4 separate regions of the Homo sapiens genome follow, and regions 2, 3 and 4 are each linked to region 1. The links come from fine-mapping of genetic effects on gene expression. A gene starts in region 1. Each other region holds a variant in brackets. All regions are shown on one strand. Distances are between the middles of the regions.

Region 1 (5,144 bases):
TCCAGTTTTGATTTCTCCAGCATCAGACTTTACAGCTTAAAAATATTCTCAGTGCTGTAAAGGGAGCTCATTCCCATATTCACCAGGGATGGGGTGGGGTGGGGAAAAGGAGAGAGAGGTGCCTGCCACTTGAGGGGAGCTTGGACACCCCCAGTAAAGATCCCTCTTTGCAGAGAGAGCCTCGCCTGCCTCAGTCTGTTATGAGTCTCATGGCAGAGGGGTGGGTGGATAAGAATAGGAGGGAGGGTCTGCTGGGCTTGAATCAGTCTGGCTATTGGACAGGAGCCCTTCACATGTCTTCAATCTGTGGCCAAGTGAAGGCAAGATTTGGAGAAAGCCAACACTCTGGCCTTGATTTTCCCCATCAGTGAAATGGAGCTTGTGAAGGATCCAATGGAAAAACCCAAAGAACATTCTGAAAGAATGATGCTCTGTGCCTGTGGCATTAGAGAAAAACAAGATTGTGTGGGAGGAAGGGACATGTTCTCCCTCCTGAAGGCAGGTTTCTAAGGGCCACACATTCTGGGCAATGAGAAGGCTGCAGGCCGACCCCACCAGTTGGCCCCTCTCCAGGCTGGTGGGCAGGCAGCTACTGCCGCACTAAGTAATGAGCACAATTCCAACACCGCTTCTGCTCGCTGGTGAGAAATCAAAGCCGGGTATTAGAGGCCATTTCTGACTGGGCACCATTCGTGCCCAAATCCATCAAAGCCCTGGGCCTGGGGTTTCTTCTGGGGAAGGTGGGGGCTGGATGCTTTGTTAAGCAGGAAATGCAGGCCACCCCCAGCCTTCTTGGCCAAGCCCACCCACCCAGAGAACTATAGGCCAACCAGTCTTGTCTTTCTCCTACAGCAGCCCCTCATTCCTGGTAACCTAAGTATTTATTCCTGATCCCACTGTCCTGCTGGTACAAAAGCAGCTTCCCAAGACACAACCCTGCCCATGTGCCATTTACAGAGACTTCACCCTACCCTTCAATCATCTCCTCAAACCCCCTCCAACCAGAAACCAGCACCCCAACCAAGCACCTCCCACGTCTAACTGCACCCTTTAAAACAAGGTTGGACATTCAGCAGCCTGCCTTCCCCATCCCCATCATTACCTTCCAACTTCAAAACACTGCTTTAAATACCAGAGTCTGCCCAAATCATAATTAACTTGGATCAAATGGTTGAGTGTTGTAACTCTACTGCACAGGACTTGCACCAGAAAAAAAAAAAAAAGTGGGGAATGTGCTAAAGCCAAGCCCTCACTCCTGGCCGTGGGAATCACTAATTCCAGAATGAGGAATCTTTGGCTATGGAGGGGGGAAGGGCGGATGTCAACTTCGCAGCAGGAGGTAGGAGGTGGGGAGGGCTGCGTCATCTCGTCCACTTTCTGCTCCAGTTTTCCTGCTCCATTCTCAGCCTCAACTCAGAGAGGACTCCGTGCAGGAGGCCCCGTCCCCACCTGGCTCCGGAGCCGAGCCGCCCGGCAGCCGTGGCCAGCCCACTTGCTTGGGTTCGGGTACCAGAGAGAGGCTGGCTCCATTCAGTCCACAGCCTCCCCGAGAAGACGCAGCCCAGCCAGCGACGCCGGGTCCAGCTACAGGACGAGCGAGAAACGTATTCATCCACGGCGAGAGAGGAGGGTTAGGGACTTTATTTCGGAGCCCACCAGTTCGCTGAAGTCATCTTGGTGGGTCCAGAGCGGGCGCTGTACCAAGGAGAGCGCACCTAGTCTGTTCCCCGGACAGCGAGAATGTCAGTGACCAATTTAAAAGGAAACTCCGCAGGATCGCTAAGAACCCCTACCCGCATCCAACACACACACACACACACACACACACACACACACTCTCCAACACTCAGAAAATTAATAATAATAATAATAATAATAATAATAATAATTCTTCCAGACCTGCGGGCCCAGCGATCTCGGGGAAAGCTATGTGTGCAAGACTTAGCCCTCCCCGCTTCAGGAGCCCTGCAAGCCGGCCTGCCGAGGCTACCGAAGCGCTTCCTGTGTTCAGCAGGTCTTTTCGCTCTCTCCCTCTAGTCTGCAGATTGCTGTCCCTATAGCGCGTAAGAGCCTAGGCGAGCCGGGACCAGACTAGTAAGTTACCGGCGTACGGCAGCGAGCGCACACCTTGCTTATGTAGCCAATGTTCTTTTTCGGGGCGGATGCCAGGCGCGCGGAGAGCCGGGCGTCCCCAGGAGGCGGATCCTCCCGGAGACTCAGACCCTGACTCCTACACCCCTTCCAGGGAGAAGAAGGGATCCCTTTCAGGAGCGAGCAGGGACCTTTCAGCTTACTGTGAAGCCCCTTCCCTGCTCCCCGCTCCCGCGATGTGGATGCGCCATTGCCCACTTTGGGAGGCAGTAAAATCTACATTCTAACTTGGGCGCCCTTGCCGCTTTTCCTGCGCGCATCGATGCGACGAAAGACCACCTCAACTTCAGGACAGAGTGAGGCGCAAGGGTCCCCTAGCCCCGCGCCCCCAGACCCGATCGCTTCCTACCTGCTTGGCTCAGCCTCGGGTCCCAGCAGAGCAGCAGTGCCAGCAGCAGCGCGCCCCGAGCTCCGCTCCGGGCCCCCATGCTCCCGCGGCCTGGTTCGGGCGCCTCTCCCCCAGGGCTGTCTCCCTGGCCCCAGTCTCGCCGCCGCCGTCTCCGCCGCCGCCGCCTCCTCCTCGCCGTCCTCCCCGGCGCCCGGCAGCGCCAGCCCGTGCCTTCCGTGGGGGCAGCGGAAGCCACGCTGCGCGGAGGGCCGCCTGGCACTCGGAGCGCGGTGGGTGCCTGGCGCCGGCTCTCGAACGAGGCTCCGGCGCGCCCCTCTGGCTCCGGGTCTCTGAGCGCTCGCCTGGCTCCGGCGCTGTGCCTCCGAAGTTGCGCGACCGCTCAGTGGCGCTCGCAGCGGCGGCGCCGCGCAGTCCCAGCCCCAGTGCGCGCCTCTCGGAGCCCCGCGGCTGCGTGCGGCTCCGGCGCCCTAGCCGGCCCCAGCCGCCTGCCACAATGCCGAGCGCCGCCGCTCGCTCGCCGGAGTGAGTTCGCCAACCGAGGGGACCGCGCGCGGCCGGGGCGGGGCCTGGGCGACCGAGGGCGGAGCCGACAGGGGGACCTTGAGGGGGGATCCGACGGCCATCTGGGCGCGGCCGCGGCAGAGCTGGGGGACCCGGGGGGAGGGTCCTCGCGAGACGCTGGGCGCAGCGTTTTGAAAAACCCGGCCGCTGGAGAATGGCTGGACGTGGAGGCGGCCCAATTTTCGCTCCCCCAAATTAAGGAAATCTGGCTTTGCGCCTTCATTTGGCTTGGCCATGTCAGCTTTCTCCTCTGATTAAACATAGGACTCTCACTTTTGGCTCCCCTGTCTGTAGTATGCGCTCTGCCTTCCACATGTGGGGGTCTTTCCAAAAAAAAGGCTCCCAAAATGAGAACACCCAAGTCCTGGTTACGCGGGGGCTTACAGCGATATGAAGCTGGGTATAGATTAGGATCATCCTGGCTGGCTCTGCTTGTCTGTATGATCTCCGGCAGAACTGTTAACCAGACCCCTGGAAACCCCTCCAGCACTCTGATCCTGCGTTGTTGTAAACTAGCCTCCTACCTGACAGTGGGACAGCCATTTTTGGCTCAGTGTAAACTTGGACTCTGCCCCTTATTTACTGTGTGACCTTGAACAAGTTACTTAACAATTCTATTGCTCCCTTCATCATCATCTGTAAAATGGAGGAAAAGGATAACTATTTCATAAGGGGGTATAGAATTAAATTTTAAAACTTGTGTGGAAATTGCAGTGCAAGTGTCAATAATCTCTTTCCAAGATTCTCCCCTCCCAGCCAGTCTGATTCCAGGGGGAAAGTCCTGACCACCCAAAGGTGGTCCAAGGAGCACGTGGGGACAGGTGAGGTTTGAAGGATGGGCAGTGTCTTGGGATTGAAACCCAGAGAGATCAGAACGAGCGGATCAGCTAACATAGGCAAAGACCTTCCCTGTGCCAGGCACAGGGCTAAGCACTCTGTATGCATCATGTCAGTTAATTCTCACAACCCTCTGAAGTAAGCACCATTTACATCCCATTTTACAGATGAAGGACCTGAGGCACAGAGGTGTAAAGCCACCTGCCGGAGATCACACTGCTTGGAGTGACTGAGTGACTGAGCAAAGGGGATGGGGGAGATGGGATTGGAAAGAAACCCTCTAAACGGGGGAGCCTCACTTGAACACCTTCCCTGGGGCTGGATTGGGCTGTGCGAAGGGGACTGTCCTAGCTGTTTCCCCAGAGGTGAGGTGAAGGCAGGACTAGTACCCTCTCCACACACACTCCCCTCACAAGCCGGGGTCTTGGAGTATCTAGGGGAGGTCGTGCATGCCATCAGCACATCTCCCTAACCCTCTCTGACTGGGCACCCAGCATCAGGAGGGTGGCAACAGGTGGACTGGGACTCCCTGGGGGAAGAACTTCCATCAATTGAGAAAGGCTGCTGTGGGCAAAGGTAGGTTGCTTAGCTTGGCCTCTGACAGCCCTAGCAAGGGCAGTGGATGAGACAGTCAACAGCTCAGCACACCCAAACCAACTCCACCTTGCAAATACACATGCACACACACAACTACCCACCCATACACACCTGCAAAGGTACACACACGAAAACATACAACAAAGACAACAGGTGCAATGTTTCACCTCCCATAAACATCACACCTACAAATAGGCACCCGACTCCAGAGACACCCACATACCAAAGATGTATGCCTAAAAAAAGCAAACACACAGGCGCACACAACTAAAAACACAAATAGGCAGATGACTCCCAAGACAAATAGATATTTGGATACTTAACTACTGCCAGGAAACACATACAGGCACGCCTGTGCCAAGACCCACATCTGACGGTCATCCCCTGGATGCAGGCACATGGTCAAGGTTGTGCCTGTGCTGGAGAGCTCAGCAGGGACCTCAGCAGAGACGGGCAGCATGCAGAGACCACAGCATGTTCTCTCTCTCTCCCCAACCTCTTTCTCTCTCTCCTTCAGGCCAGTGGGGTATTGGAGATTTTTCTAAAAAGTTCCACCCCTTGGAACTTTGCTGTTTAGGTGGTAAAGTGTACCCAGCAGGCCCTTCTAGTCCAAGTATCAGGTTTCACGGCTTTAATTCCTGGGTGGAGA
Region 2 (5,144 bases), 61 kb before region 1:
AGTAAGGGAGTAGGCCGGGCGCAGTGGCTCACGCCTGTAATCCCAGCATTTTGGGAGGCCGAGGTGGGTGGACTGCCTGAGCTCAGGAGCTCGAGACCAGCCAGGCCATCGCGGTGGAACCCCATCTCTACTAAAAATACAAAAATTAGCCGGGCATGGTGGTGTGCACCTCTAATCCCAGCTACTCGGGAGGCTGAGGTGGGAGAACTGCTTGAACCCGAGAGGCGGAGGTTGCAGTGAGTGGAGATCGCACCACTGCACTCCAGCCTGGGCGACAAAGTGAGACTCTGTTTCCAAAACAACGAGAGCCCTCACTTCTCCTTGGCCCTGGCTTGGGCCCCAGTGACTGAGGAAGGCTTGAAAGGTGGGCTAGATGAGAGCGACCTATGGCCAGGCTGCACGGATACCAGCTGGGTGGGAGAATAATGGGGTCTCGGGGTTCCTGGATGCTTACCCTGCCAGGCGCCGCTCAGAGAGTGGTTCATATGAACTCAATGAGCTCCATAATAACCCTAGACAGAGATGCACAAACGTTTTGATTTTTAGTGCCTCAGTAATTTTTTTTAAGCTATCCCAAGGCCAAAAAGAAGTCCCTAACAGGAATGTATTAGGTAATTAGATCCAAACAGCTTTGTAAATATTTATATCCTAAAATCTTAGGATAAATTGAAAGAAAAAATATATTTTTATCCCATTCCTAATAGCCACAAAGACTTACGAACAGGGATGTGTGCACCTGTCGGGCACTGCACAACTTCTCAAACTTTGGAATCCAAGCGGACACCACTATTCTTACTGTTTGTCATGGGTTACTCAAGTGCCACAATCCCAGCTTTGCAAAGATATGGTGCCAAATAAAGGAAAACAGAGTGATATGATGCTGAAACTGAGCTACCTGGAGCTACTTGTTGGTGCAGTGTCTGACAGCTATCTAGTATTACCGTGTCTCCCACATTAAAAATATCCCACAGCTTCCCTGTGAGTGTGCTGATGAACCCTGGGATAACTTGGCAGGTAGTTTGGGAACCACAAGCCTATGAGTTGGATATGATTATTATCCCCACAGTGCAGATGAGGAAACTGAGACCAAAAGCGTTTAAGTGACTGGCATAGAGCTATAAAGCTAGTAAGTGGCACCGCTAGGGGGCAAATTCAGGTGATCTGATACTAGAATCTGTCTTCCGAGCTCTGCTGAACTGGAAATGGGCATTTAGGTCTACTATGTGCTACTCCTTGCAATTCTTCCCATTTTACAAATGAAAACGAGGGGCAACAAGGGACATGAAGGGTCACCTGGTCGATGGCAGGAAGCAAGGCTTGAGCCATGTCTCTCAGCCCTGCCTCCCTGGCCTCTCTGCAGGACTTCCTGCTGCTCCGTCTCTACAGAGGAACCACATCTAAGACAGGCTCCCCTAGAAGTTCTTGCCTCAGCCAGGCCGGATCTGGGTTTCCTGCTGGCAGGAAAATTCCCACATGAAGTGTTTTTTCCCAAGAGTAGAACTCGTTTGGGCCTAAATTGCAAAAGTGCAGCCTGCCTTTAAAGCTGCATCCAAGAATGGTCCAGATATCCCGCCAAGAAGCTATGAAAGAAGACACATCCCTGCACAGATGTAATGACAAGACAGTCAAATGAAGGACACGAAAGATCGCTGGAGGCAGAGGCCCTGGGTTTGCATCCCAGCTGGGGACTGGCATTGCTGTGTGGCCATTCTCTCCCAGGCCCTGGAGTTTCTGTCTGTAAAATGAGGAGGTTGGCCAAGTCAGTCTCTCAAGCCCTCCTCTGCTTCTAACACTTTGAGGTTTAAAGATCCCTTATGGGGAATCTGTTCATGTGTGAAAATGTCCTGTTGAGTAAATTTTTTTCTTCAGAAAGCAAATTTGCTTAAATTAGGGTCACTTTCCTTGCCATTGCTATACGGTGGTCCTAAAGCAGAGCGTAGGTAGAACCCAGGGAAGGAGGAGGAGGAAACACTGTTGGGCTCGCCTAACCATGCTCCAGCCCACCCATCCCAGGCCTTAGATCAAAATGACCACCAGCACCTCTGGATGGGACCTCCGAGGGGTGCCATCCAAACTCTCACCTCTAATTTGCCTTTACCTGCCTCTTTATGAGGTCTCTTTATGAGGTCTCTACATGAGACCTCTTTATGAAGTCTCTATAGAAGTTACTTAAAGGGCCATCTCATCCAACGTCTCCCATCAACTCCTCAGCCAACCTTGACTCACATACCTGTGGGGATGGGGAATTCATCACTGCTTTTCTCAGCCAGGTTCTTCTTCGGACAGACCTAATAGTTAGAAAAGCCTTCCTTACTCACAGCTGCAATTTGAGATTCAGCCATTGCTAGACTTCTAATTTCTATTTTATTTTATTTTTTTTTTTTTTTGAGACAGAGTCTCGCTCTGTGGCCCAGCTGGAGTGCAGTGGTGCAATCTCGGCTCACTGCAACCTCCGCCTCCCGGGTTCAAGCAACTCTCTGCCTCAGCCCCCTGAGTAGCTGGGATTACAG[GC/C]ACCCGCCACCACAACTGGCTAATTTTTGTATTTTTAGTAGAGACAGGGTTTCACTATCTTGGCCAGGCTGGTCTTGAACTCCTGATCTCATGATCCAACTGCCTTGGCCTCCCAAAGTGCTGGGATTACAGGCATGAGCCACCGCACCCAGCCTAGAATTCTAACTTCTAAACTAACTAAACAGCACACTTCTAACTAAACAGTGCACTTCCCAGTCTGGAGGTTGCAGCCTGGTCCCCCAGTCTGTCTTATCCAAATATTCTCTAGAAGACACAGTTTTGCACCTCTCACCTCCATGCTGGCTTCCTTATGGACAAGTTCCTCATGTCACCCACCCATTTAAAATGCAGGAGGGTGAGGTGACCAGGCTAGGGTCTAGAGGGCACCTTCCTGCTTCTGGCAAGTCTGTTTTGAGTCAGACAGCTCAAAGCCTCCTTTGCAGTTTTGGTGGCTGCTCCTGGAGGGCAGGGAACACACTATGTTCTTCCTGGTGTCCCCCATGGGCAACAGGGCGCCCGTCTAGGAGTGGAGTGGAGCTTGTCGGACAGCAGGCCCTGTGCCCGTCTGTAGGCTTCTTCCCAGGGGCTGGGCCTGTGCAGTGCCTGCTGTGGAGACACAAGCTTGTATAAGAGGTGTCAGAATCTGACCCACCTGGATGAGCAGGAGTGAGGGCCCAGGAGGCGAAGGAATGACTTCAGGACAAATGTAAAGACACTGTACCTCTCAGAGGGTCTTCTCAGAGGAGGGGGTGGCTCCAACATTCCTGAGAGGGAGATTGTCACTATCCCTAGGGGAAGCCAGAGGAGTGCTGTGGCCCTTACCATGACTCTGAGCCTGGGCCCAGGCTGACCCAAGAGCCAACAGTCCTGGTTCCAAGCCTCACCCAGCACTGTGAGACCTTGGGAGGTTGTTTGACCTCTCAGAGCCTCAGTTTCCCCATCTATAAAGAAGTGACTAGCAGTTCCTGCTCTGTCAACTTTGGGGTATTGCTGTGAAAGGTCAACTGAGAAAACAGATGCAAATATCTTTCTTAACAAGCACTGTGGGCCGGGCGCGGCGGCTCACGCCTATAATCCCAGCACTTTGGAAGTCCAAGGCGGGCGGATCACCTGAGGTCAGGAGTTCGAGACAAGCCTGGATAACATGGCGAAAGCCTGTCTCTACTAAAAATACAAAAATTAGCTGGGTGTGGTGGCGGATGCCTGTAATCCCAGCTACTCGGGGGGCTGAGGCACAAGAATTGCTTAAACCTGGGAGGTGGAAGTTGCAGTGAGTGAGATCTCACTATTGCATTCCAGCCTGGGCAATGGAGCAAGACTCCATCTCAAAACAAACAAACAAACAAACAAACAAACAGGCAGTGCATGTGCCTGGGAGTGGCAGCAGGCAGGAGCTGTTCTCTAGCTGAACTGTGTGTGGGAGGTCAGAAGCCCCACAGACTGTTTCCTTGGCCTGGCACCATCTGAGCCCACGTAGACCAGACACAGAAAGTCAACGTTCAGAGAGCCTGGAGCCCTTGGAGCCCCGCGTTCTACCGGATCAGAGAGGGGAAGTGACTAATGCAACACCACACAGCAAATTAACAGCCAAGCTGGACCAGAGCCCAGTTGCTGATTCAGGACTGAGGAGGGACAGGGGGCCCAGAAAGACAGCACAGCCACGGCAGGGTTGTGGGTGAAGGCTTGGGCTCTGTGATTCCCATGCCTGGGATGGAAATTCCTGCTATCCATCTCAGCCGGGTCCACTTCCGGTCAGCCCTGTTGCCCAGGGCGGAGACCTCAGAGGGAGGCTGCTGTGGTCTGGTAGGGAAGGCCTTGAAACCCCCACCGCTGGCTTTTGTCCACAGGCCTGGGACCCCCAGGCTTCCACCAGGGGTGGGCATCTGTAGCCATGCAGGGCTGTGTGTCTCCAGGGCTGACTGGCTCAGGACAGGGAGGGGAGGAGTCAGGCGGGAGGTGAGGACAGAGAAACGCCCCACGCTGGGCACATTTATCATCAGCAATCACAGTCTTTCTCTAGCCCCTGGACACCGGCTAATTCTCCCCAGACTTGACCTCCCACTGCATGGAAAATCTCTCCCATTCACTGCGTGGCTGATGTGCTCAGTGGGGAGTGGGGAGAGTTGGGGGAGAGGAGCCAATTTATTATTATGTTTTAAAAACACACAACCTCACATGGAAGGACCCCTCCCTGGACACAAAGCTCTTCCTCCATCTGGCCCTGGCTCCTTGCGGCTGTGGGGTTCAGGCAGGGGCCCCCTCGGAGGCGGTCACAATGGCCGTTACCGATGACAAATGGGGGCTGGCGGGCTCGGGGGACGCCAAGTCATTCCTAACAAAGGTGGCTCCTCACGCAGCCCTCTTCCCACACCCTCTGCACCCATCTGTGCCCTGACATCACTTCCTCTGCTGTCACAGGAAGCGGCTTCGCCAAGGTGGCCAGCTGGGGCAGGGGCCTGCATCCTGAAGGGGGTGTCCATCTGCTCCTGTGAAACGTCTCCCTCGAAGGACTGTGAGGCAGGTGAAGAAGTGGATGGGAGGCTGGGGTCGAGGCCCCAGGGCAGGTGCAGTGCTGGGATGAGCCCGGGCCTGGCTATGGGGGCCACGCTGCTTACAGAGCTGGAAAGGGCACT
Region 3 (5,144 bases), 33 kb before region 1:
TATTTAAATTATTCAACAGGCTGTCAGGAATAGGAGAAAAAGGAAGAGCTGAGTTTAACACTCAAAGAGAAAAGTGCCAACTCAGGGGAAGAAGGGGAAAGTGGGCCCCCCTTCTCCCTGCCTCCCGCTAGCTCATTCTGCTCTGGAGGTGCGGGGGGCTTTTCTCCAGGGCGCTGTGTGTATTGCCTCCCTCCTGGCCGTATAGGCTCCCAGGGCGTCCCTGCTTGGGAAAGTGCTGCCAAGGCCAGAGGCAAGGCTGCCTACCTGAGAGGTGGAAGCAAGTGGGGGGAGCTCAACTCCTCTTCTGCTCCTCAGAGACAGGACCCAGGGAGGCCCCAAGACTGCTATCAAAGAGCTGAGAGCTGGTACCAGGGACCTGGGTGCTTGGATGGTTCCCAGGGTGAAACCAGTATCTCCTTCCCTGAGATACCACAAGCCTGGAAAGGCAGTGCTAGAAGTCAGAGGCTTTGGCAAAGGGGAGAGAGAAGGGGGCAATTGAGTCCACTCCTACCCATTATACAGAGTAGGAAAGTAAAGGCCACATAGGAGGAGGTGAATCAGCAGCTTGCCAAAGGCAGATGCGGCATTCCCATCCTTTCTCCTTTTCCCTGAGGCCTTGAGAGGGTTTTCCAGGTCTCAAGGACACAAGTAAGACCCCCAAATCACTAGGGAGCCTTACTTCACTTGGGTCCTACATCCCAGGGCAAAGCAAAAAAGGAAGCATGTCTTCCCTTAGCCCCCGGTCTGATTTCTATAGAACTCACTGCCTGGTTTCTCTTTGTTCTATGGCACAGAACTCCCAACCATGCAAAGGTCCCAGTGTGGGTGCTGTGGCTCGCTCACATCCATGCTGGGGCCTGGGGACTGGGGGTGTACAGCTGAGGAAGGCCCAGACTCAGACTCCTGAAACAGTCCAACTCAGCTGGGGCCAGGGTGCCAGGTTAAAGTGCAGAGGGTCAGGTCTGGGAGCTCAGAAGGTGAGGCCTCCAGCTGACTGCAACGTCTGGGAGCCTGTCCAACAGCGAGGCCTCAGTGGGCAAGAAAGAAACAAGCCAGGCCTGCTGAATCACCTCTCCTCTCCGCATGTTAGCCAGGTAGGGGCAGGGGTGGAGGGGACTGCTGCAAGGCTGGGTAGATGGAACAGTGCCTTCCCTACAGCCATGGCCCTCTCTGTACACCCAGTGCCAATGGCACCTGCTCCAGGGAGCCTTCCCTGATGTTCTGGATGTTCACTCTGCAGCCCAAGATGCTGTCACCTCTGAGTGACCTCTCTGTTCTGACTCCATAGGCACCTTCAGGGCAGGGATAGGCCTTTACTATCCTATTGTCTCAAGGAACCTCTGTGAATAAGCTGGTGGTCTATTATTGCTCAGTAGTGAGCTTCCTGGACAATGCTGCTGGGCCTGCACACGGCCCCAGTGAACAACCTGGGTCATGCACTTCCTCATTTGGTTTGCACTGGAATCTGGGCAAAGGCTGGAGGCTGAAAGCTCCTGGCGCTGACATTCTCCAGGTAGCAGGGGCGTGATCAGACAGGTCCTGGACGGCTTCAGGGTGGGGCTCTGGTCACACAGGGAGTGGGCAAGGGAGTGTGAATGACTCAGTGCCAAGCCCTCCCTGCTTCAGGGAGCACCGTGAACCCGGAGTGTTTAAAGAAGTGGTCGCCCCAGAGGGAGCCTGCCGGCTGGTCAGCCGCCCTCTGCTCCCCTCTCTGGCCTGGGTCTTAGTCTTATTGACACTACGAATATAGTCTCAGCTTTATCTCCTTCAAAGGATGGGTGTGGGATCAAAAGAATGTGGCTGGCTCTGAAAGGGTTTTGACAGATGTGGAGCGCTGGGGTGATTATATTCATTGTTCATCCTTCCTCCTTTCCTTCCATCTACTTATCCAGCCACCCATCCAACTGTCAGTTTGTCCCTCCCTCCCTCACTTCCCTCCCTTCTTCCTTCCCTCAACCCAGTCACTCACCAATCCTGTACCCACTGATTGTTGGTGAATAGATATTGAATATGTAGGACTCTGACCCACAGCTTGGTCCCTGTGCAGAGAGGGAGCTCAGAGAGCCCACAGGGTGCTTCCCTGATTCAGCCCCACCTCCCTCAGGTGGGCTCCCCTACCATCCTGGCCCCCCACCCCACTGTGATCTCACCTGCCCCTGGGTGTGGAGAGCCACAAAGCCATCCTTCTGGAAGGAACCTCTCGGATCCTCTCCCCTTGGGGTCCTCCGCCTTTCTGGGACCTCCATGCCTCCTCAGCGTCATACCTCTCCCAGCGTACAGTATGCAGCCCCCCAAGCCACGCCAGTCTTGTTGACGAATGAACTCCTACCAGGTCTCCCTTACCGAGGGCAGCCTTCACCAACTGCTGGGCTTCTGAACTGGGGGCTGGTTTCTCCTTAGGCTTCCACAGGCGGGAGTCTTGTTTCCCAGCTAAGCCACCAGCTGCCTGAGGACAGCCTGAGCTTCAGTTCTCTCGGGGCCGCCCCCACCTCCACCTCCAGCCAGGTGTGCCAGGCCTTCCGCACACCCTCGCTCAGATACAGAGAGGAGGGAGCCATGACGCCCAGAAATGAGGAGGGTGCTGGCGGTGTATCACCAGTAAGTCACAGCCCCGTGTCCTTGGGACTGCCCTGAGACCAACAGAGCTGATACGATTTGCTCTATTTTCACAGGAGGCAGGATGACAAGCCGGGTCACAATGGAACGGGAGGACACCAGCTTGTGGCACCCCACCTGAGCACCCAGAGTGCCTACAGAATAGACAGGGAGGGCCAGACCCATCTCCAGAGGGCAGCTGTGGGTGGAGCAGGGACTCACAGGAGCCCACAGAGCAGATCTAGGACTGGCCCAAACCTAGTGGCCATGTGGCACGGCGAGGCTGGCATGGGACCTAGTCTGTGGCCATGCTGGCTACCAGGGATGAGGTGGCATATTCTCTGGATGAATCCACCCCTTTGCCTCCCCACATCAGAGACTAGCTGGGCTGCCTCTCCCCGCCAGCCCACCCAGAAGGACAGTTCAGACCCCAAGCTCTGAGGGCTCAGGGCCTCTCAGTCTGTACCACCAGGCCCTACTGGGATTCTGCTAAAGAAGACCTGATAGAAGGGTCCCCCCTGCCAGACTCAGCCTCCATTACCCCATCAATAAGACAGAGCTAGGCTCA[C/T]GGTAAACGCGAATGTAGGTGCGAATACCTTGGGATCTTGTCAAAACGCAGACTGATTGTGGTCTGGGACAGTGCTGAGGCCTCGAATTCCTAACAAGCTTCCAGGTGATGCTGGTAGCAAAGCTCTAAGGGGCTCCCAGCTCTAAGCCCTAGCTCCCAGAGAGATGGTGTTATGGAGAGAGCACACGTCATGTAGGATAAAAAGAAATCTTTTCAAAAGTGGTCCCCAGGGTTGGGGGAGAGGAGGTCAGAGAAGGGAGCCCGGGGACAATAGTGAATAGAATTGGGATTATTTCCTGAACTCTGATTCCTCGTGGGAACGAGGTTTTGAAAAGCTTTTCTTAAAATGGTTATTATTTAGTGGCCTGTCCAAAATAAACACACACATGCACTGCACGGAGCCAGGCAGGAAGTGAGGAACATCTGGGAGACATCTGGCTGCTGGAGAACTGAGAAGTGGGTTGGGGAGGGCCAGCGGGAGCTGGAGGCGGTCTGCGTGCCATGGTCGCCCACAGTCACACAAGCACGCCAGCACGCCCCCGCCGCCAACCAGTTCGGCGCACACAGGCATGCATGCATGCACACAGGGTGTCCCTAGGACCTGCAGGACCTTGCTGGCAGCGGCTGCAGATCGCGGGTTCTCGGAAGCGGACATCCTAGCTCTCAGGATCCGCCTTCCCTCCTCCCTCCTCTCCTCTTGGAGGTTGTGATATTTATGACTTGCCTCTCTACGTATGCAAGCTGAGTGTTTTCCTTCCACCTGCTCCCCGGCTAGCCTCAGAAAGAAGCAGGGGCCTGAGTAGGGGCAAACTTAGGGCAAGTCTCCAGGTTCCTCCAGATCTGTGCCCTCTGTAAGAAGGATATGACTCTTCTGCCTGGCTCACTGGAACACTAGAGGCCATTCACCCAACTGATATTTACTGTAAACCTTCTGCAGTGCCAGGCAACGTCCCAGGGGCTAGGTGTCATCTTAGGAGATTATAACCAAACCTTAACACCCAAGTTTAGGGTGTCGTCATAATGCCTGAGTGGCCCTGGGGTGGGGGGCCACCCTTACCCAGCAGGCATTGGCCCAGGCTGTAGGGATGAACCTGCCACCACCCTGTGAAGGCCAGGGCTCAGAGTCTCATGCTGATTATGCCTGGGGGCACCCTGCATCATTTCTGTTGTGGGCGTGTTGTGCAGGGAGTTCCTCCAAGGAGACTAAGAGGGCAGGAACCTTGTGTTGCACAATTCTCTGTCCCTAAAGATGCCTGGCCCAGTACTAGATACAGCAGAATAGGTGATGGCTAAATAAATGGAGAGACCTGGGCTTGTACAAAGGGCACAGTCTCTGCAGACAGACACACCCAGGTGCAGATCCTGGCACTACCACACACCAGCTGTGTGACCTCGGGCAAGTTGCTTCATCTCTCTGGGCCTCGGTGTACTCAATTATAAACTATGGAGAACAATGGTTAGCTCCAAGGGTTAAGCAGCCTGATACATAAGGTCCTTCACGCAGTGCCTGGTATTTGGTTAGAACTCAACCAATGTTATTATCACGAGGCACAGAAGAGATTTTAAAAGTAGTATTCACCCAGTGACCTTAGGTGATCCCTGTAGCTGTGGTTCTGATTTTCCTCCATGTTCCTTCCAGCCCACCCTGGACTGTCTAGTCTCTCCAACCTTGGCCATCCAGGTGGGGTGGCCTCTGAGGAGGGGGTGGCGAAGGCTTCCCAAGCCCCCCGGGGAACAGGGAAGGGAACTAACCCTGGCTGAGAACCTTGGTGTTGGGCACTTGATGGATGGCATCTTCCCAGAAGCCTTCAGAGCTGTGCCATCCAACACAGTGGCCACTAGCCATATGTGGCTGTTTAAACTTTAATTAAAATTAAAAGTTCAGTTCCTTCATCACCCTGGCCATATTTCCAGTGCTCAATAGCCACGTGTGGCTAGTGGCTACCAGACTGGGCAGTGCAGGCAGAAGACGTCCCCATCC
Region 4 (5,144 bases), 20 kb before region 1:
TCCTCAGCTCTCTGCTGAGTTCAGGGCTCTGGCTACAGTGGGGGCTCAGCAAATGACCATCAAGCCCCCAGAGGGGTTCAGAAGGGCTGGTGGCTGCAGGCCTGTTAGTCCCACCCCTCCTGTCTTTCTCTGTGGTCTGGGCCCCTTCCCTGGTGGCTCCCCTAGCGAGGGGCTGTCTGCAGATAATCAGGGAACAGATTTGGAAAGAAGGAGGAAAAAAAGCACTCCGGCGCCAGACAGGATCCTTATCTTCTGGGGCGGGATGTCTGTCAGAGGCAGAGGCAGAGGCAGAGGCAGAGTCAGAGGCAGCGGCAGCGAGTCCTGCAATAGGGGCCCGGCATTGCAGCCAGGCCGGGGGAGGAGGGGCCCCCCTGGGCGCTGGGGGTGGGAAGGGCTGGCCTCTCCTTCTGGGCCAGGAGACCAGTGGGAATCTATCTGGCCTGCTGGGGAGGGGATCTGGATGCCAAATCCTGTCCCCTCAACCCAGCTTTTAGGATGAGTCTCCCTGATGTGTTCAGAATGACCCTGGGACCTCTGCAAATAGAGCAGAGGAAGAGAGGCCCAGGTTTCCAAGTCTCCCAAGTTCCTAACAAGGCAGCAGGGCCCCCAGACCCAGCAGCCTGGAACTGGCTGGGGAACTGTCTTAGCCACAAGACTCTGGCCAAGTATTCTAGCTGCATCTAGGTGCTCTCACCTGTAGAATGGGGATGAAACCCCACACGCCTCTTGCACTGAGCTATTAGGCTTCTCCCCAGGGATTCCATCTAGAAAGTGCCTTGCAAAGGGAAGGTGTGTTCTGCCTGGGGCTTTGAGCTTCCCACCCCAGGGGCTCCCTGCTGGTTCTCACACAGCTTGACAGACCAAAGGAAGGTCATACAAGGGGCTTTGCTTCTTATGCTGGTCCCCAGAATACTTTTCAGTGAAACCCCACAACATGGTGAAGGTCCTTTTCATAGAGCAGAGAGCAGGTTTTCCGATGGGGTACTGTTTCCCCAGGGCAGTCCATAAACCTTGGGACCAAGAAGCTTCGATTCCCTGGCTTGGACTTCTCTGGGCCAGGCCTGAATCTCAAGAATGAAGCCTCATCTCCGTGAGGGCCCCAGCAAAAGCCCCTGGAGGGGGCGGTGTCAAGTGCGGGCCAAGGGCACAGGCCCTAATCAGGCTCCAAATCCAGGCTCTTTTGCTGCTTCCTGGCTGTGTGACCCTGGGCAAGTGTCCTTATCTCCGCCCCCCACCCCCGAGGTTAATTTCCTCATCTATAAAATGAGGAAGATATCTCTTCAGTGCTAACATTTTGTAACTTCACACTTGACCTAACCGGCTCTGCCCCTGAGAAACTTGAACCGTAAAAAGAAGGGAGCCATATAACACATATAACTGTACTTGCACACTCATCAGGCAGAGAAGCATCAAATCAAGTGTGCCTGTGTGGCCTGGAGCACCCTGGGACCAGGTTCCTTTGTGGACCCTGTTTCTAATCTCCTGGCGGCCTCAGCCAAGAGCAGTTAGAGTGGGCTGGCCTCCTGCAGGAGTTGGACCAGTTCATCTCCCAGGGATGGGCTGCAGGAGGAAATGCCAGCAAGGGTCCTGACAAAGAAGGAAAGGCTTCTGTCTGGTGCTGGGGATTAAAGGCACACTCCCCTGTGCCCCACCTCCAGTTCCCTGTGCCCCACCCCAGCCCCACCAGAACCTGGCTGGCCTGTCTCCCAGCTGCCATCTGTAGGGGTTGGTCCTCATTAACTGCTGTGGCAGCTGAGGGGCTGGGAGAGGGAGATGCAGGCTGCAGAGCTAGAAACTAAAGCCAGGCTGGGACGGTGGCCACCTCTGGAGCTAGAGTGATGGACCGTGGAGTGGGGAGGCAGAGGGAAGGGGGAGACAAGGGAGTATAGGGACGGGTGACAGGCTTGGCCAGTGGGAGAGGCAAAGGTGAGAGCTGGCTGAAGCCGCCAGCATCTTCCGGGCTGTT[A/C]TTCTGGGCAACATTTTATTTATTCAGAGGCTAGGGATGCGGCTCAGCATTGGTTGGCTCAATATTTATTACAAGTGCATTGACCTTGTACTGTGGACCCCGTGATGGGGCCACCTCAGGACCCCGGGATGGGGCCACCTCAGGATCCTCATCTCCTCGGTGCTAGGACACACTTGAAAACCTGCAACGAAAAGCCGAGGGGTCCTACCTTCCTGGAAGACCACCCAGTCCAACTCTTGCTTTACCTTTGGGAAAATTGAGGTCTGAGGCAGAAACAACCTTGCTCAAGGTCACAGGGCACACTGGTCCTTGATCCCTGTTCTCTTGGCATTTAGGCCATCAGAATGGACAAGTGCTGTGGAAGTAGAAATACTGCAGACCACATTCAGAGGGACAGCGACCTGCCCACAAGTCCCCCATCAGGTGCAGACACAGCTGGCAGAAATCCTGGAGTAAGGTCGCAGCTTTGTGTACAAGGCACTCAAGCTCCCTGAGCTTTGGTTTCTTCCTCTCCACGAGCAAGGTAATCATGCCCATCTCACAGAGTGGTTGGGAGGACTGCATGAGAACACCCTGGAAACTGTCAAGCCCCATCCTACTGGAATTGGTTTATTCACTGACATGCTGCATGGCAGGCTGTGCTGGGAAGTGAGGCAGCATGGCCATGGGGGACTGGCATCCATCCATGGCCCCTAAACCCCTTCCTTATCACAGCTACCAAGGCTAGGCAGGCGGCAACTAATAAATCGGCAGTAAGAGCTCCTTCTTAACCAACTGAAGACATGTAAATGACCCAAAGCAAGGCCAGGGCTGCCAACTGGCGGAGCTCACGGTGACATCACATGCCCATTTGCTCCAAGCCTTCCAGCAGCTGAGGTCAGCTTGCAAAGTGGGAGCCCCTCCCCCTCCAGCCCCGTGCTGAGCCAAGAGGAGCATGGCACTGCCAGGGCTGGGGCTGGGGCCGGGGCTGGGCCACCAGCTCAGGTTCCACGAGTTCCTCCCTCCTTGTGCACTCCCTCTGCAATCGGCTCTCCTCCACCCTCCCTGACTGCATTTCCCTCATGAACACAAGATTGCTACTTCTCATATAACACATACGCGGTGGTGTGAACTTCTGGTAAATGAAGATCTTATTTAAAACTGTGTGCTATCAGAGGAGGAGATGAGATAGGTTTTGACACAGCTCAGCTGGCTTGCCAGGAAAAGGAGGTGCTGGGGGGCTGTGCACAGAGCCACAGGCCATTCCTGGGAGTTCCTGGGCAGTCATCGGAGATGGGCCACAAGGCTTCTGGCAATGCTTTCAACTCATCTATGAGGGTCAAAAAGGGTATCCCTTTCTTCATCTTTGCAGGAGGGTTCAACAAGGAGGTTTCCCCATTTGAGAATTCAGTTTGCTGTGTGGAACAAGTGGCTTAACCTTGCAGGGCTTTCCAAGAATGCAGAATTTTGGATCAGAGAGGCCTTGGAGATCCTCAGGTTCCAGGGTCCTCTACCTCAGCTACACAAGAGGACCACCTGGGGGACTTTTAAAGATCCTGACGGCCAGGCCAGAACCCAAGACCAATTAAGTCAGGATCTCTGGGTGGGACCTAGGTGCCAGGTGATCCCATTGTCCAGCTAAGGTTGAGAATGACCAAGCTAGTCTCTTTTTAACATAAGTGTGCCACAGAATCACCTGGGGTGTTTTGTCAAAATTCATATGCCCAAACCTGGCCCACAGTCCCTAAACCAGAACCTTTAGGGTAAAGGCCAGGCATGTGCATTAAAAAAAAAAAACTCTTAAGATTTTTACGTACGATTGTGGTTTTTCGTTTGCTAAGCACCTGTTCACAAGGGCCCACCGTGTGCTGGGCACCGTTCTGAGCATTTAGGGTACATTGCTGAGCGTACACAGCCCTGCGCTCCCAGGCTGGGGAGTCAACACATAAGTCTGTATTCAAACAACCATTCCAGATGGCAAGAAGTGCTGGAAGAAGAGTAAAAGAGGCAGGGGGCCAGGAAAGGACTCTCTGGGGAGGGGCCATTGGAGCCGAGACCTGGATGACAAGGAGCCAGCCACGCCAAGCTCAGTGCGAGAGCACTCCCTCCAGAGGCACGTTTGCTGATGTGTGAAATGACGACTCTAGCAATGGCCGAGCCCATACTCTCGCCAACCCCCACCTCACCCCTACTGTATTTTTAGGGTGCCCAGCAGGAAATGCTTGGAAGAGGCCAGTGGGTGTCACAATGGCACCTTCTGCCCCTCAGGAAATTCTATAGGCTGCTGGGCTAAGGGGACTTTACGATGCACAGCTTATATAGCTTTCATATAAGGAATCCTATGGTTCACTAGTCCAACCCCCTCATTTAACAGACAGGGAAACTGAGGCTCAGAGAGAGGAAGTGATTTGCCTTGCTGTAGCATCTCTGCTCTGACAGGGTTAAATGGGACAATGACTTCACCATGGAGGTGGCTTGCTGCTGTCAAGCCCATTGTCTTTACCCCCAGCCACACCCCAAATCCCTGTTCCTGGCTGCTCTCCATATAAACAACCTGTGTGTTCCAGCCATGGTACAAGTCTGTGACACATCCAGGGAGCTTGAGTGGTGGGAAGGTGGGGAACCCCCACTTCCCTGCTTCCCTGCCCCATAATCTTTCTGTGGGCGGGAGGTCCTTCCTCCCACACAAGGAAACCCATGAAAGGCCAGACAGAATGGTGCCAGATAAGGCCATGGAATTTGGAATTTGGTGGGATCTAGAATTTCCCTTATGGGGAAGGCTGGTCCCAGCTGTCCACCCATGGTGAGTATCCAAAGGGAGGCTGTGCCAGGCTCCAGGGATGTGGGGGGAGGCCCACATACCCAGGGCCGGAGGCCTGATGAGGTGGGGAGGGCAGAGAGAAGGTGGCTGGTTGTCTTTGGAATGTCCCTCCCCAGAGAGGCAGGCTAGGTCCACAGGTCACTTGGTGGACAGGACATTGAAAGCAATTTTGACCTTGGCCACTGGCCTGCTCTGCTCAGTCTGATGTCCACGTTTGTGGTATAGCCAGGAGGGCTAGAGGCTAGGGACTGCCTGTCTTCAACCTGCTTGGCCTTGGCTTCTCTGTGTGTTCAGGGGTCAGCAGCTTCCCTCGCTGAGCCATGGAGTGGAGGTAAGTTCCTGGCTCCCAAACAGGCCTGCACCCCTCCTCACTCTGAC

The links. PIP is the estimated chance that this variant, and not a neighbour inherited with it, causes the effect.
Region 2: its variant is the best candidate, but not a certain one, in a credible set for the expression of UNC5B in lung (TOPMed, PIP 0.53).
Region 3: its variant is the best candidate, but not a certain one, in a credible set for the expression of UNC5B in lung (TOPMed, PIP 0.72).
Region 4: its variant is the best candidate, but not a certain one, in a credible set for the expression of UNC5B in monocytes after LPS (Fairfax 2014, PIP 0.87).

Annotation. Positions count from the first base shown.
Region 1 is chr10:71,210,421-71,215,564 of GRCh38, reverse strand. UNC5B (unc-5 netrin receptor B) reads right to left here and starts at 2,995. Exons shown (of 17, transcript NM_170744.5): 1 at 2,501-2,995. The coding sequence starts at 2,579. RefSeq lists a silencer at 2,835-3,094 and an enhancer at 2,939-3,233.
Region 2 is chr10:71,271,602-71,276,745 of GRCh38, reverse strand. The region is part of intron 1 of UNC5B (unc-5 netrin receptor B); the gene reads right to left. Among named protein-coding and RNA genes, the nearest start is that of SLC29A3, 45 kb to the left of the region's middle. The variant GC/C (reference allele first, on the strand shown) is at 2,511.
Region 3 is chr10:71,243,380-71,248,523 of GRCh38, reverse strand. The region is part of intron 1 of UNC5B (unc-5 netrin receptor B); the gene reads right to left. LOC112268061 (a long non-coding RNA gene) reads right to left here. Exons shown (of 2, transcript XR_002957083.2): 1 at 2,151-5,144; 2 at 1-437. Among named protein-coding and RNA genes, the nearest start is that of UNC5B-AS1, 28 kb to the right of the region's middle. RefSeq lists enhancers at 932-2,131, 1,437-2,356. The variant C/T (reference allele first, on the strand shown) is at 3,164.
Region 4 is chr10:71,230,247-71,235,390 of GRCh38, reverse strand. The region is part of intron 1 of UNC5B (unc-5 netrin receptor B); the gene reads right to left. LOC112268061 (a long non-coding RNA gene) reads right to left here. Exons shown (of 2, transcript XR_002957083.2): 1 at 1-5,144. Among named protein-coding and RNA genes, the nearest start is that of UNC5B-AS1, 15 kb to the right of the region's middle. RefSeq lists enhancers at 1-77, 1,586-2,339, 2,385-2,895. The variant A/C (reference allele first, on the strand shown) is at 1,967.